Homo sapiens: one gene and its partner. The protein of the gene in region 1 interacts with the protein of each later gene in a pairwise test. Each region holds a gene or a part of one and is shown on either strand. Other genes may lie near its edges.

What was found. Proteins that work in one complex are often made in the same cells at the same time.
Region 2: the proteins of BBS4 (region 1) and IQCB1 interact in binary tests that used the Homo sapiens proteins (3 or more experiments, as listed by UniProt).

What each region holds. Positions count from the first base shown.
Region 1 is NC_000015.10:72,681,980-72,689,216, reverse strand, and holds the start of BBS4 (BBSome complex member BBS4), read right to left. Parts: upstream 3,011-7,237; 5' UTR 2,990-3,010; coding exon 2,966-2,989; exon of another isoform or gene 2,701-2,965; coding exon of another isoform or gene 2,653-2,700; intron 1-2,652.
Region 2 is NC_000003.12:121,790,061-121,797,088, forward strand, and holds part of IQCB1 (IQ calmodulin-binding motif-containing protein 1), read right to left. Parts: intron 5,507-7,028; coding exon 5,397-5,506; intron 156-5,396; coding exon 13-155; intron 1-12. UniProt on the Homo sapiens protein: Involved in ciliogenesis. The function in an early step in cilia formation depends on its association with CEP290/NPHP6.

The DNA.
Region 1 (7,237 bases):
GTTTTGAGTCTTTTCCTTTTCTCTCCTCCATATCCATATATCCTTATCTACGGATCTATATGTTTTCCTTTGTGTTATGAAATTAAGATCACATAATATACCCCACTTCACATCTACCTTTTATTTAAATGTACACCATGGAAGTCCCTCCAAGTCAATTAGTCGTAACATTCTCTTTTTTTTTTTTTCTTTCTGAGTTTAGGAATGGAGGTTTAATAGGCAGAAGAAAGAAAGGAGAACAGCTTTCTCTAGTGAGAGAGAGGGGCTTCTGAGAGGAAAAGCAATTAGTTGTAACATTCTTTTTAATGACTGCATAATATTCCACAGTATGGAAATATCTGAAGTCATCAATTACCCTATTAATGGGCATTTAATTTGCTTCCAGCGTTTTGCCACTACGGATAGTACTACAACGAATGCCCTAGTACTACACGCTCATGTTTAACACTTTTTTCTGTGGGACACAGGTCTAGGAGTAGGATTACTGGGTTCTTTTAATTGTATTAAAAAATAAGGCAGGGGGCCATGGCTCACGCCTGTAATCCCAACACTTTGGGAGACCGAGGCGTGCAGATCACAAGGTCAGGAGTTCAAGACCAGCCTGGCCAACGTGGTGAAACCCCATCTCCACAAAAATAAGCCAGGCATGGTGGTGAGGGCCTGTAACCCCAGCTACTCGGGAGGCTGAGGCAGAAAAATCACTTGAACCCGGGAGGCAGAGGTTCCACTGAGCTGAGATCACGCCACTGCACTCCAGACAGGGCGACAAAGTGAGACTCCGTCTCAAAAAAAAAAAAAAAAAAAAGATAAAATACCACTTCCTAAAAGGACAGAAATTCACATTTCCATGCATTGGTAACTTGAAAAGATGAAAATTACTATAAACGTAACACTACTAGCAATAAATTTGACAACAATGAAAACAGTTAACTTCAGGCTTAATTGCTAAGTCATATCGAAACAAAAGCTATTCTCTTTAAAACAGTATTAGACATTCAAATGTACATGACAATTCTGCCGTCACAGACTCAAGTTCATATTCTATTACACAAACACTTGTGATGAGCACTAGAGGATAAGCTATATTTGTAGCAATGTTATGTTACCCATTATCTTTTACACTTTAAGATTACTTAGAAGTATTTTCTTTTTTTTTTTTTTTTTTTTTTTGAGACGGAGTCTTGCTCTGTCACCCAGGCTGGAGTGGAAGTATTTTCTTTCCTATGTTTTTAATATTTAAAACCCAGTAACATTAACCATGCTATTTACTTTTTTTTTTTTTCTGAGACGGAGTTTTGCTCTGGATGCCCAGGCTGCAGTGAAATGGCACGATCTCGGCTCACTGCAACCTCTGCCTCCTGGGTTCTAAGCGATTCTCCTGCCTCAGCCTCCCTAGTAGCTGGGATTACCAGCGCCCGCCACCACGTCCAGCTAATTTTTTGTATTTTTTTAGTAGGGACAGGGTTTCACTACGTTGGCCAGGCTGGTCTCGAACTCCTGACCTCAGGCGATCCACCCACCTCAGCCTCCCAAGGTGCTAGGATTACAGGCGTGAGCCACTGAGCCTGGCCTATTTAATTATTTTAAAATCTGTTTTTTCTTTCTTTTTTTTTGAGAAGGAGTCTGTCTCTGTCGCTCATGCTGGAGTGCAATGGCATGATCTCGGCTCACTGCAACCTCCGCCTCCGGGGTTCAAGCGATTCTCCTGCCTCAGCCTTCCAGGTACCTGGGATTACAGGCGAGCGCCACGATGCCCCGCTAATTTTTGTATTTTTAGTAGAGACGGGGTTTCACCATGTTGGCCAGGATGGTCTCAAACTCATGACCTCAAGTGATCCACCCGTCTCGGCCTCCCAAAGTGCTGGGATTACAGGCGTGATGCACCGCGTCCGGCCTAGCTATTTTAAATTTCTTAGCTTAATAAAAATGTTTCGGCCGGGCGTGGTGGCAGGCGCCTGTATTCTCAGCTAATCCGGAGGCTGAGGCAGGAGAATTGCTGGAACCTGGGAGGCGGAGGTTGCAGTGAGCCGAGATCGCGCCATTGCACTCCAGCCCGGGCCGACAACAGCGACACTCCGTCTCAAAAAAAAAAGTTTCTGTCTTCAGAGTTTTCTAATTAGACTAGAATAATATGACTACTCTGCAAATGAGAGTAGAAAACAAACAAAAGGCCCTCTAACAATAACACTAACCTTGCTGCTTAGCCAAAACTAAGTTGTAAAACAGCCAAAGGCTGCTATTTGTACTGTTTTCCAGGGCGTTTTTCGAAAGACAATAAATTCCGAATACCTAAAATCATTCTAACAAATGGACAGAACAGGCTTTCAAACCCAACACTAAAGCAAGGTAAACAAAGCTTCACACTTGGCACTTTACCGAAATTAGATCCAATTATAGATATATGCCTCAAAAAATAGCGACTAGGTCATCCTGAATTCATCGGGTTCCTCTATATTAGCAGTTCTGTGGAGTGAACGCCCAACTCAGCCTTCAGATGAATTCCAAAACCGTACTTTCCTAAACTTAATCACCACAGAAAAAACACAGTCCCGCTCCACTGGCAGAAGGCAGTGACGCTGCAAGCTTCCAGGCATGTTAAATTCCCAATTCACGGGATTAACAGGAACTGTCTACACAAGTGCTAGTCATTACCTTCCAAACCCCCGAGACAGAAAAAGATGGCACTACGGTAAGAGCCATTACTGGTGAAAAGTCTCCCTTCTCCGTCCAGCGCACCCCAAGAGGGACTACAGTCCTAGAACAGGACCTGTGCTGCTAAGTATCCAGACTTGCCCCAGGCGACCAGTTCCCGGGACAGTAAAAAGGGGACCGTGTCGCCCCGCCCACCCTGAGACGCTCGGCACCCAGCTCCGCCTCTCTCCAGGAACCGCTGCATGGGACAAAAGCCACCCGCCAGCTTGCCTTGCCCTGCGGCCGGGCAACTAAAGAGAATCTCGGCGCTCACCGTCGCGACTCTCTCCTCAGCCATTTTAGCTCAGCCCACCGCTGCGCGGCCGGAAGTCGGCGGTTTCCCAGACGACGAGGCAAGCGGAAGTCGTAGGGCTGTGGAGGACTGTGAGGAAGCGGGGGAAGGAAGTAAATCGCCGAGTGACCTAAGGAATCAGGGGGAGGATTAGGGTCTGCTCCACAGAAGGCTTACCTCTGAAAGAGTCGGGGAGGGAATGCGCAGCCACTCGCTGCCTTTATCCCGAGAAGCCCCTAACACCCCTCGCCGTGGTCTGTACATGGTCTGTACCTCCGGCCGCGCTGGCTGGTAGGCCAGCCACCTGGGATGGCAGCCTAGTTCTCCCGCCACCTTACCCTGCCCTGACTCTAATCTGCATTTAATTCAGTCCTTCTTCCGGGAGATTTCGGCGGAGAATTTCTTTCTCGCCTTAGGTACAAAACTCCCCGTTTCTTGGCTGTCACTATCGAACTGAGGTACTCACCTTATCAGCTTCCCACTCTTGTTTACTCCAGAGTTTGCAAACATGCTCCTGGTGGGCTGCATTTGAACGGCAGTCTTTTGATTGGAAATATTTAAAAGTTAGGAGATTTCACAAGAAATCGGCCATGGGATAAAGAGACGACAGTCGGCGTTTTCTGCAAGGCAGTGAAATAGATCTGAATAGCGGCTGCGACTGTAGATAACTTCCCTTCCTAACATACTTAAGGCGTTCTCCATTACCTGTCTGGCCCCCGGTGCGGTGAATTAAATGTTTAGTGTTTCTAAACTAGGAAAACGTGTGGGCTTTGGAATCAAACATGAGTTCTGAATTTGACTACTGCATGACCTAAGCCCGTCGTTTCTTTGAGCCTCATTTATTAAAGTGCCGGGAGCTGTGTGATGAACAAAACGGAGGATCCCTGCACCTGAGCACTGACATTAGCCCCAATTCATACTTTTAAGTCTCGCCCTTGTAATTTAGACATAAAATCTGCCTCTCCCAATTCATTAACTGGGAAAGCATTTAAGACAAGTTTCTCCAGGCCTCTAAGAGAGGGAGAACCCCACTGACAATTAGAGTTACATAGAAGAAACAAGTACGGTAATCTATCCAAATACAAGGGGAAAGGACAGCAATAGAATAACAGCTCTTCTAAGTATTTCAGTAACACTCTCTCTTTTAATCTTTATAACAATCCCATGAGACTGTTGGTCTCCCACTTTTTTCAGATAAATACTCTGCCTTTCATTTATTAAAAATAAAATTTTCCAGCTTGGCCAGCATGGTGAAACCCCGTCTCTACTAAAAATACAAAAAATTAGTCGGGCATGGTGGTGCCCGCCTGTAATCGCAGCTACTCGGGAGGCTGAGTCAGGAGAATCACTTGAACCCAAGCGGCAGAGGTTGCAGTGAGCCGAGATCGCATTTCTGTGCTCCAGCCTGGGCGATAGAGGGAGACTCCGTCTAAAAAACAAAAATTTGCTGGGCTCGGTGGCTCACGCCTGTAATCCCAGGACTTTGTGAGGCTGAGGTGGGCAGATCACCTGAGGTCAGGAGTTCAAGACCAGCCTGGCCAACATGGTGTAACCCTGTCTCTACTAAAAATACAAAAAATTATCCGGGCGTGGTGGCCGGCTCCTGTAATCCCAGCTACTAGGGAAGCTGAGGCAGGAGAATTGCTTGAATCCAGGAGGTGGAAGTTACAGTGAGCTGAGATCATCCCATTGCACTCCAGCCTGGGCAACAAGAGCAAAACTCTGTCTCAAAAAAATTTTTTTTCAGAGGCAGGGGTCTCACTATTGATGTCCAGACTGGACTTGAACTCCTAGGCTCAAGTAATCCTCCTGAGGCAGGAAAATAGGGTCTGGAGGTAGGGAACATAAGGCCAATTCACACTTCAGCTATAACAGGTAATATTCTGTCCATAGGGCATAGGCCATAAATGTCTTTGTAACTTTACTTCATCTTCTCTATTTACATAAGGCATACCCGAAGTAACCATGGAATCCTCTGGGGTTATTTAAACTCCCCAAAATTCTGTAACGGAGCCACTGAACTTCTAAGCTCAGGCCCGCTCCCACACTGGAGTGTACTTTCATGTTCAGTAAATTCCTTGTCCCTTCCTTGCTTTGTTTGTGCATTTTGTCCAATTCTTTTTTCAAGACACCAAGAACCTGGACACCCTCCACCTTTAACACTTCCACCTCATCCTCTCAAGTAGCTAGGATTACAGGCACCAGTCACCATGCCTGGTGCTAAATTCTCCACTTTTCAGAGATTAATTAAACACCTTGCCTAAGTGAGCCGAGATCGTGCCACTGCACTCCAGCCTGGGAGACAGAGCAAGACTGTCTCAAAAAAAAAAAAAAAGATATAAAGATGAAAAATTATTAATTTCTAATCCACAGTGCTTAGTTTTTTTGTTTTTGGGACAGGATCTCGCTCTGTTGCCCAGGCGGAAGTGCAGTGGGACAATCACGGCTCACTGCAGCCTCTACCTCCCAGGCTCAAGTGATCCTCCCACCTCAGCCTCCTGAGTAGCTGGGACTACAGCTTCATGCCACCACACCCAGCTAATTTTTGTATCTTTTGTAAAGATGGGGTTTCATCATGTTACCTAGGCTGGTCTCAAGCTCCTGAGCTCAAGCAATCCAGCCAACTTGGCCTCCCAAAGTGTGGAATTACAGGCGTGAGCCACCCCGCCCAACCCACAGCGCTTAGTTTCATGCAGTTTTTCAGTATTCCAGTCCTCTTCATGGGCGGGGTTACTACGCAACACTGGCAGTCTAGGAAGAAATCATTCCAAAGGATCAAAAAAAAAAAAAAAAAAGGAGGAATTGAAGCTAATATCTTCTGCCCTATTCTTTTTATCTTCTACCCTATTTTTTCTTTTAACACATATTCTTTTTGCCACTTTCAAAAGACTGATTCTCAATCTGACATGTCACTCCCTGTTCTCTTCAGTTACCCTTTAGTTCTGCTGATGTGGGGAATCCCCAACACTCCTCTACAGAGAATATACAACATCCAGAACAAAATTTTCCAAAGGCTTCTTCACTAAAGTGTAAGAAACTACTTTCATCTTTTCCTTCAAAGATGCAACAATTTATTTCAGGGACTAAATGTCCAAGTTCCCTTTAACCACCAGATCAAAAAACATTCTAGAAAAACTCCTCTATTATTTCCACCAAATGATAAAAAGTAGAAGCCATTACGTCTCCTTTTTCAGAGCAAAGAACTACAGACTCAGGCCTAGTCCATTTACATGACTGTCTGGGGGTGCCTGCTGCAGTCAGGAGGGCCAGGTGGCAGCTTGGTCAGCGGTGAATAGCGAATAGACTGCAGCATTCTCCTTATAAAGGATTTACTCCTCAATTCCAAACCTTTCCTCAAGGGATTAACAGAAAAGCCAGTAGATGGTGAAACTTAAGTGGGGAATGGATTACAAAGGCTAACTGGTATCTGTAGATGGCTATATGAACATGTAACTTGCAAATACAGAAGAATACATAGTTAAAGTGTTGTCTAGACATCTGGATGAAGTTTTCATTTTATTTTATTTTATCTTATTTTTAGACAGAGTCTCGCTCTATCACCCAGGCTGGAGTGCAGTGGTGCGATCTCAGCTCACTGCAACCTCCAGGTTCAAGTGATTCTCGTGCCTTGGCCTCCCAAGTAGCTGGGATTACAAGCGTCAGCCACCACACCTGGCTAATTGTTGTATTTTTAGTAGAGACAGGATTTCACCATGTTGGCCAGGCTGGTCTCAAACTCCTGACCTCAAGTGATCTGCCTGCCTTGGCCTCCCAAAATGCCAGGATTACAGGCATGAGCCACCATGCCTAGTGTGGATGAAGTTTTAATAAGGTATAATAATGTCCTTCATATCAGAGGTGTGGAAGAAAAGGAAGAGGATGGGGAAATGAGAGAAGAGCATCTTTTCTGGGGGATTTTTAAAATACATATTTCTACACAATAAAGATTTGTTTTTCAAATAAATAAATTACTCTATAGCACCCTTATATACTGTCAGTTCAATAAGTTGTTAACATCTTTTGGAAGGCATCTGGCATTATAAATCCTTAAAAATGTGCATACCCTTTGATCAGTTCTATTTCTGAAATTATATGCTAAGGAAGCAATCAAGAAAACAAAGATTTATAAGAAGAGTATTTACTACACATTTAGTTTGGATAATTAAAAATAATACTTTAAAACTGGAAAGAAAGCTGGGCCCAGTGACTCGCGTCTATAATCCCAAGGCCCAGTGACTTGCGTCTATAATCAAG
Region 2 (7,028 bases), on another chromosome or scaffold:
ACTGCCACTCACCTGGATGAACTATTTCGAGCATACTCAGCTGCAATTCTCGGGAAAGTCTCATGGCTCTCTGTCTTTGAAGTTGCAATTGTAATTTGAGGTCCTCTTCTTCCTTCTGCCTATTTATCTCCAGCAACATCTTTGATCGTTTGGATCTGTGATGGAAACAGTGTGTTATACATAATTTTCATAAATCATATGAAAAAATGCATAACCTCACTAGTAATCAAATAAATGTAAACAGAAAAAATTTTAAGATAATTTCTAGTGTTAATAAGGTATGATAAAATAGCTTGTCATCTGCTGCTGTTGTGCAATCTTTCTGTAGAAATATTTGAATATATGCATTAAAAGTCTGGAAAAATATTTGAAATATATAAATAAAAAGCCTTAAAAGTGATGACCAATTAATTCTATTACAAATAATTTTCTTAAGGAAATAATCAGATATATATGTAAAAATTTATGTTCAAAAATGTTCTCCACAGTATTACAACAGTAACAAGTTGAAAACAAACTTTGTCTCACAACAGCGAGTTGGATAAACAGATACTGGTTCATTCACCTGATGGGATGGGATTCTATGAACTATGAAAACATAAAATGTTCGAAGAATATTTAGTGACATGAGAATATACTGATGATCTAATGTCAGGTAAAAGGAAAATCAGGATATAGAAGAATGACATCAAAATTGTGTCAAAAAACTTACATTTACTTACACAAAAAAAAAATAAAAAACATTAAAATTTCAAGTGATTTTTACTGCATGATGTAATTACAGTTGATCTTTATTTTCTTCTTATGCCTATTTCTCAATTATTGACAACTGAACATTACTTTCATAACTGGTTATGAAAATTTTCATGTGACCACAAACATTTTATATAATTATAATTTCTGTATTATCTGCTTTTATTCACCAAAATTTCTCCTTAGCCATTCCCATCTAGTTTTTGTTGCTTCCAATATCACTATGTAAGGAGACTACAAGTGTCAGTTTACAGTAAATATACTCAAAATGCTTTCAGACACCCACAGAAAAAGAAAACGAGGATAAGAAGAAAGGCAGAATAAACTACTTAGTTTACCGCTATAGACTTAATTTGACATGTGTCTCCCTCAAGAACATTTTCTCTTAGATCTTTTTTTTAAACTGTATTCTTAGAATTAAACTGTAAACAAATGTGGTACCTTGGCTATAGCTTTGTACTCTTAATAGTCAGACTTCATTATAGTATAGTTAGGATTATTATGATTTTTCAACTGAATTTTCAACTCAAAATAGTTTATTTTGATTTTGATAAAATTTTGTGTGCCTGTGGTTGTTTCTCATAAATTCTTCCATCAATTACAACTTAAATTTTCTCTAGCTTTCTACTTAGGGCAGAGTAGAGAATTTATTTGTTTTGAAACTTCTTTCTTATCCCTATTATCAAGGGTAGAGAAGACCTCAAAAGTGTATGTGTGTCAAAAGATTCCAGAGAAGATCTAGGGCTAGTTGAATAGTTCTAAGTGTCTCTTGCTCTTTGTGAAAGCTGGAAATGAAGTAGGTAAGGGCCTCTCCCTTCCCAAAGAATAGCTGATAGCAACTTGCCTGTTCTACAGAACTCCATCACCTCAAAACTTCTGGGTTATACAGCATGCAGATAATAATGTTTTATCTCTTACCCATTCATAGAGGGTAAAAGAGAGCAGGCCCTAAACAGAGCCTCCTTTTAAACTGATTTTTAAAAAACTACCTCTGTGGCCGGGCGCGGTGGTTCACGCCTGTAATCCCAGCACTTTGGGAGGCCAAGGTGGGTGGATCACCTGAGGTCAGGAGTTTGAGACCAGCCTGGCCAACATAGCGAAACCCCATTTCTACTAAAAATACAAAAATTAGCTGGGTGTGATGGTGTGCACTTGTAGTCCCAGCTACTTGGGAGGCTGAGGCAGGAGCTTGAACCTGGGAGGTGGAGGTTGCAGTGAGCCAAGATCGTGCCACTGCACTCTAGCCTGAGTGACAGAGTGAGACTCCGCCTCAAAACAACAACAACGACAAAAAACTACCTCTGTTTCTAACTTCTAATTGGCTATAGATTATAATGTCTAATACTGCATTATCAATATTTTAAATACCATTTTACACTATTAGTATGAAAAACATAGTAATCATTAAAATTGCATCTGCTAGAATATTTAATCTGTCAGAAAACTGGGTTTGGGAAACAATTTAGGCATGTAGGCTATCAAATATGGCAAAAATGAAAAGACTATGGAGCATGAAGGTGGAAGTAAAGTACAAACCAGAAAGACAGGACAAAAGTGAGATTTGGGCCGGGCGCGGTGGCTCACGCTTGTAATCCCAGCACTTTGGGAGGCCGAGGCGGGTGGATCACGAGGTCAGGAGATCGAGACCATCCTGGCTAACACGGTGAAACCCCGTCTCTACTAAAAAATAACAAAAAAATTAGCCGGGCGTGATGGCGGGCGCCTGTAGTCCCAGCTACTCGGGAGGCTGAGGCAGGAGAATGGTGTGAACCCGGGAGGCGGAGCTTGCAGTGAGCCGAGATTGCGCCACTGCACTCCCGCCTGGGCCACAGAGCAAGACTCCGTCTCAAAAAAAAAAAAAAAAAAAAAAGTGAGATTTGGTGATTTAAATAGGGACTAAATTGTAAACAGGTGTGCTTATTGGATTCATATGTTTTACTTTCATATCTGAAAACATTTATTAGGAACTGAAGTGATTTTGAATGTAATTCCCCCATTTATTATTAAATAACATCGAGTTATTTTGTTCAGAGTTTCTCTAATCACTCAAAAATCAAACAATTATTCTTCCAACTGGTTTCTTTGTAAGAATTAGTAGGCACTGGACCACCTGGCATCTGTACTACACTTCTGAAGATGAAATGACTGATCAGATGTCATATTCTGAAATAAGTAAATTCCATGATTTACATTTAATCAATCTGAATTTTTACCATTAAAGTGGGAGTTGACCAAATTTTCTGCTGCCAAGACACTGTGCCTCAGAGGGAGAGAGAGAAAAAAGATGCTATCTGCATTTAAGAAGCTCAGTTTCAAGATGAAATCAACAAATGTAATTAAAACACTTAAAAATCAGCACTATGATAGAGGTAGGTAAATTGTGAGGTTTCTCTAAGATAACTAGAGCAGCTGTTAGCCGCTTCAGAAAACCTTGCTGAATAAGAGTACTTAAGAGACAAAGTTTCTGAATACGAGAAATGACTAAATAAAAAAGAAACCACTATGAAAGTGCATTAGCAAGGGCGTGACTATAAAAGAATGCCTCTTGCTGAATCTAAAGAACACTAATCAACCTGGACCCATAAGTGTGACCAGTGGGCAGTCTCTCTCCCAAAACCATGGGAAGGGGAAATTACTGAGATAAGTCCTGAGCACAAAAAGACAGAAATAACCTTTGAAAAAAAACCAAGCTACAAAGGAAGCAAGAGACATTTGCATGAACTGTTACAACTAATAGAAGAGCGAAGGTGCTGAACTGGAGAAAACTGAAAATTAAAAAATTAAATAGAATCCAACAGGTTAGAACCGCATTTCAGTATATTCTGGAACCTCAAATGCAAAAATACTGGAAAGGCAACAAACACAAAATGTGAGACTTAAATAATTTTTGCTTCACAGCTTATCTTTTTAATGGAAGTATTTATAACTCTTCTGGTTACATAAAGAAAGCAATGGAATTTCTATTTTAAAATAATGGAATATTAGATTCCATAGATACACTTCTAAGTAGAAAAAAATCTGTAATCCTGGGCTACTTTTAAATAGAGATTTTAATATTGAAAGAGAGAGTATATGAGCAAATTTGGGAACTCTTGTGGGACTAAACATTAATGCTCTGAATCCATGTATAAGGGTACCCTTAAATTTAAGATGACAGGTAACTAAGGATGATAGCAGGTGGAATCCATAAGTAATACCTACTCTATCTGAATTCACCACAGAGGCAATACCAAGAGCACCTCAGATGCTTTGGGTAGAAAAATATACACTGTGACTCAAAAAGTACTCAATATTTCCCAAATTTATCTAACCACAGAAATGCTTTTAAAAAAAAAACAGCTTGTAAGATAGGCAATAAACTTTGAGTAATAATAGATGGATAATACTTGCTTCTCATTAGTACTACCTATTTAATGCATCTATTTGTTTACCTAGATTTGTAAATTTTCAAGGACAGAAAATGTGCCATATGCATTTTTCCTTCTATCATTTTTTAAGTGCCAGATAATATGCTAAAAACTTTGTATTATCTCAAATTTTACATTATCTTGATCATACAAGTGTATAAACTATTATTCTCATTTTATAGATTGGAAGTTTGAGGCTGAGAGAGGTGGGGGATTGTCCAAGTTCACTCAACCAGTAAGCTGCTCAAGTGAGATACAAACTCGAATCTGTTAAATGCCTAGTACATATATCATATACTAGGCATTTGATATATATTTAAAAATTAATTCTTTTCTTTGCTACCAACAATATTCATGCCCAATAATATTTAAAATCCATCTTTAATTCTTCCCTGAAGAAAACGTTCATCAATTAATAGGATACCCACTAAGAGACACAGTTAGCTAGAGTGATTTCAATGTCTTCAACTCTGTGACTACATAGTATTTTGAACCCCAGAGCTATTTTTAAATGTTTTTATAACTGAGAAATGCATCTGCAGTTATTAAAAGAATAGTTTCAGTTTTCTTTAAAGAATTAACTTCTGTAAAATGCCAGTTTCATTTTAGCAAACTAAAGCTTGGCTTTAAGTTAGGCTGCATGAAAAAGTCACCTCTGAAACAGATCTTCTTTACCATAAATTACCTAGAAGCTAAGTTATTTTTTCTTGTTCTGTGACCTTGGAGGATCTGGATTGGTTAAGTCATTGCAGAAAGTGGGCTATGTCTTCAGTATTTCCTTTTCAGTCTACTTGAAATAAATGCCGAACTATATCATAATTCAATGAAGATATCCATCCATGCCATATTTATTCAGGAAAATCAGGTTAACAGACTTAAACTCTTATACGCATACATGTTATTGTTATAATTATACACACGAAATTATGATAACTGTTGGTTTAGAGGGTTTAATAATATAACTATCATTGGCTCCCTTTGTAGGCTTGGCCCCTCCCCAAATATCTTATTAAGTGGATAGGATTGCATATTTGACACATCAGATTCCTGTCTTACATCCTTTGCTTTGAAAGTGCATCTGGTTACTGGAGTGTTGGTACCCAGAAACGTATGGAAAAAAAATGAAAAGATAACAAGAAACATACTAGGAAATTAAAAAAAAATCACCTAAATTTCAATTCAACTGTACTCTAGTAAGATTCTATGATCATCAATCCCCTCACCAAATTTTTTTACCTGAAACTCCTCTGCAAAGCAATCACAGCAGATGGAAGCTTCTTTAATCTCTTTCTTGTCTGAAAACCCTTCCAATAGGCTTGAATCAAGCATGCTGCTTGATGTAGTTTCTGAAATGCCGAAAATAATTTAGAGATATCTCTAGGAAGGTCTTTAAAAAAAAAAAAAAGTTTACCTCTTAAAGTATCAGGTTAGGGCAAATATTAATCTCTAGCTCTAACAAGATGGGTAAGAATATTAAACCTTACCTCCCAAAGGAGGTATGTTAGGCTTGGTAAGGCAATTTCTAGAACATACTCAAGATATAGTCTAGTTAGCTCCAAATTCTCCCAGAATAATCTCACTTCCATTTCCTTTTCAAAGATTTCATAGTCCGCCTGACCTTTCATAATCTTTTTTGAGCTAACATGTTAATGTTTTTACTTAATAGGCAATCAACCTAGTTAGGTTCAAACTATAAGCTCTGTTGACCATTGTGGATGGTTGCTCGAATCTCTGTTTAGTTCTGTAAGCTTTTGATATGCTATTCTCCTGATAGACCATTGGGCTTAAAAGGTCAGTGAGCTGTCTGAGTTCTTGACTGAATTCTGTCCCAGTCTCCTGTTTACTTAATAGACTTCTGAGTCCTCAAATGGAATGGCAAAGGGTACAACTATTAATAATAAAATATAGTTTTATGATTTTGTTACCTAATCAATATGAATTTGAGCATATGCATAGTTTTGAGATTAATCTAAACTCACGATGGTTCATATATACAGAAAAAAGGAATTCCCTTCTTCTGCACTCTTCCTTCCAGCCTCCCCCAACCCATTCTCCTGCCTTACTGGACTTATTTTCATGGTTTCTGCTTGTATTTTTAAATTTATTGTCTTTTTGGTTTTGGATTTTGGATATACAATGTCCCCTTTTCCTTTTAAATTAAAAAATATCTTTAGTCATTTTAGATGTTTTCCATATTTAAGTCTTTATCTGGAAATCAGAAAGCAATATGCCTCTTCCTGTTGAATGGGCTATTTAGAGCCATCATTTTGAGTATGCTAGAGGAAGTATGATGAAATAATCAATAACTTGCTGCCTCAAATTTCTAAATAATTTTATTAATACCATTTCTTACACAAAGGAAAAGGCATTATTGTTGTATCTCAAAGAACAAGAAGGGTAGCCATAGGTAACCATAAATACAGTTTGCTACAATTAGAGATTTTTTTTGGAAAAACAGTTTTAAAAGTTTAAATAGCTTATAGATAAAAGAAGATAAACATCAGAGATGGGGCTTTCATGAGAAATGATGAATGAAACTGATGTGGCAGTATTTATAAACAGATGTAAATGGGAGATTGAAATTATGTTTTCCAGCAGATTGAATGGCGGAGAGATACAATTTTGTAACATTATATTTTAAAGATGGGGTTTTGCTATTTTGACCAGGCTGGGGTGCAGTGGCTACTCATGGGTGTGATCATAGGGCAGTCTCCAATTCCTGGACTCAAGCAATCCTCCTGCCTCAACCTCCTGAGTAAAAAATTTAAAGATATTTCTGTTTTGGGGGTATTTTGCTTGAAATCTTAAGAGAAAGAAAGTGAGGAACATTTAAGGAAAACTAAGGTTTAATATAGTCAGCAAATATCA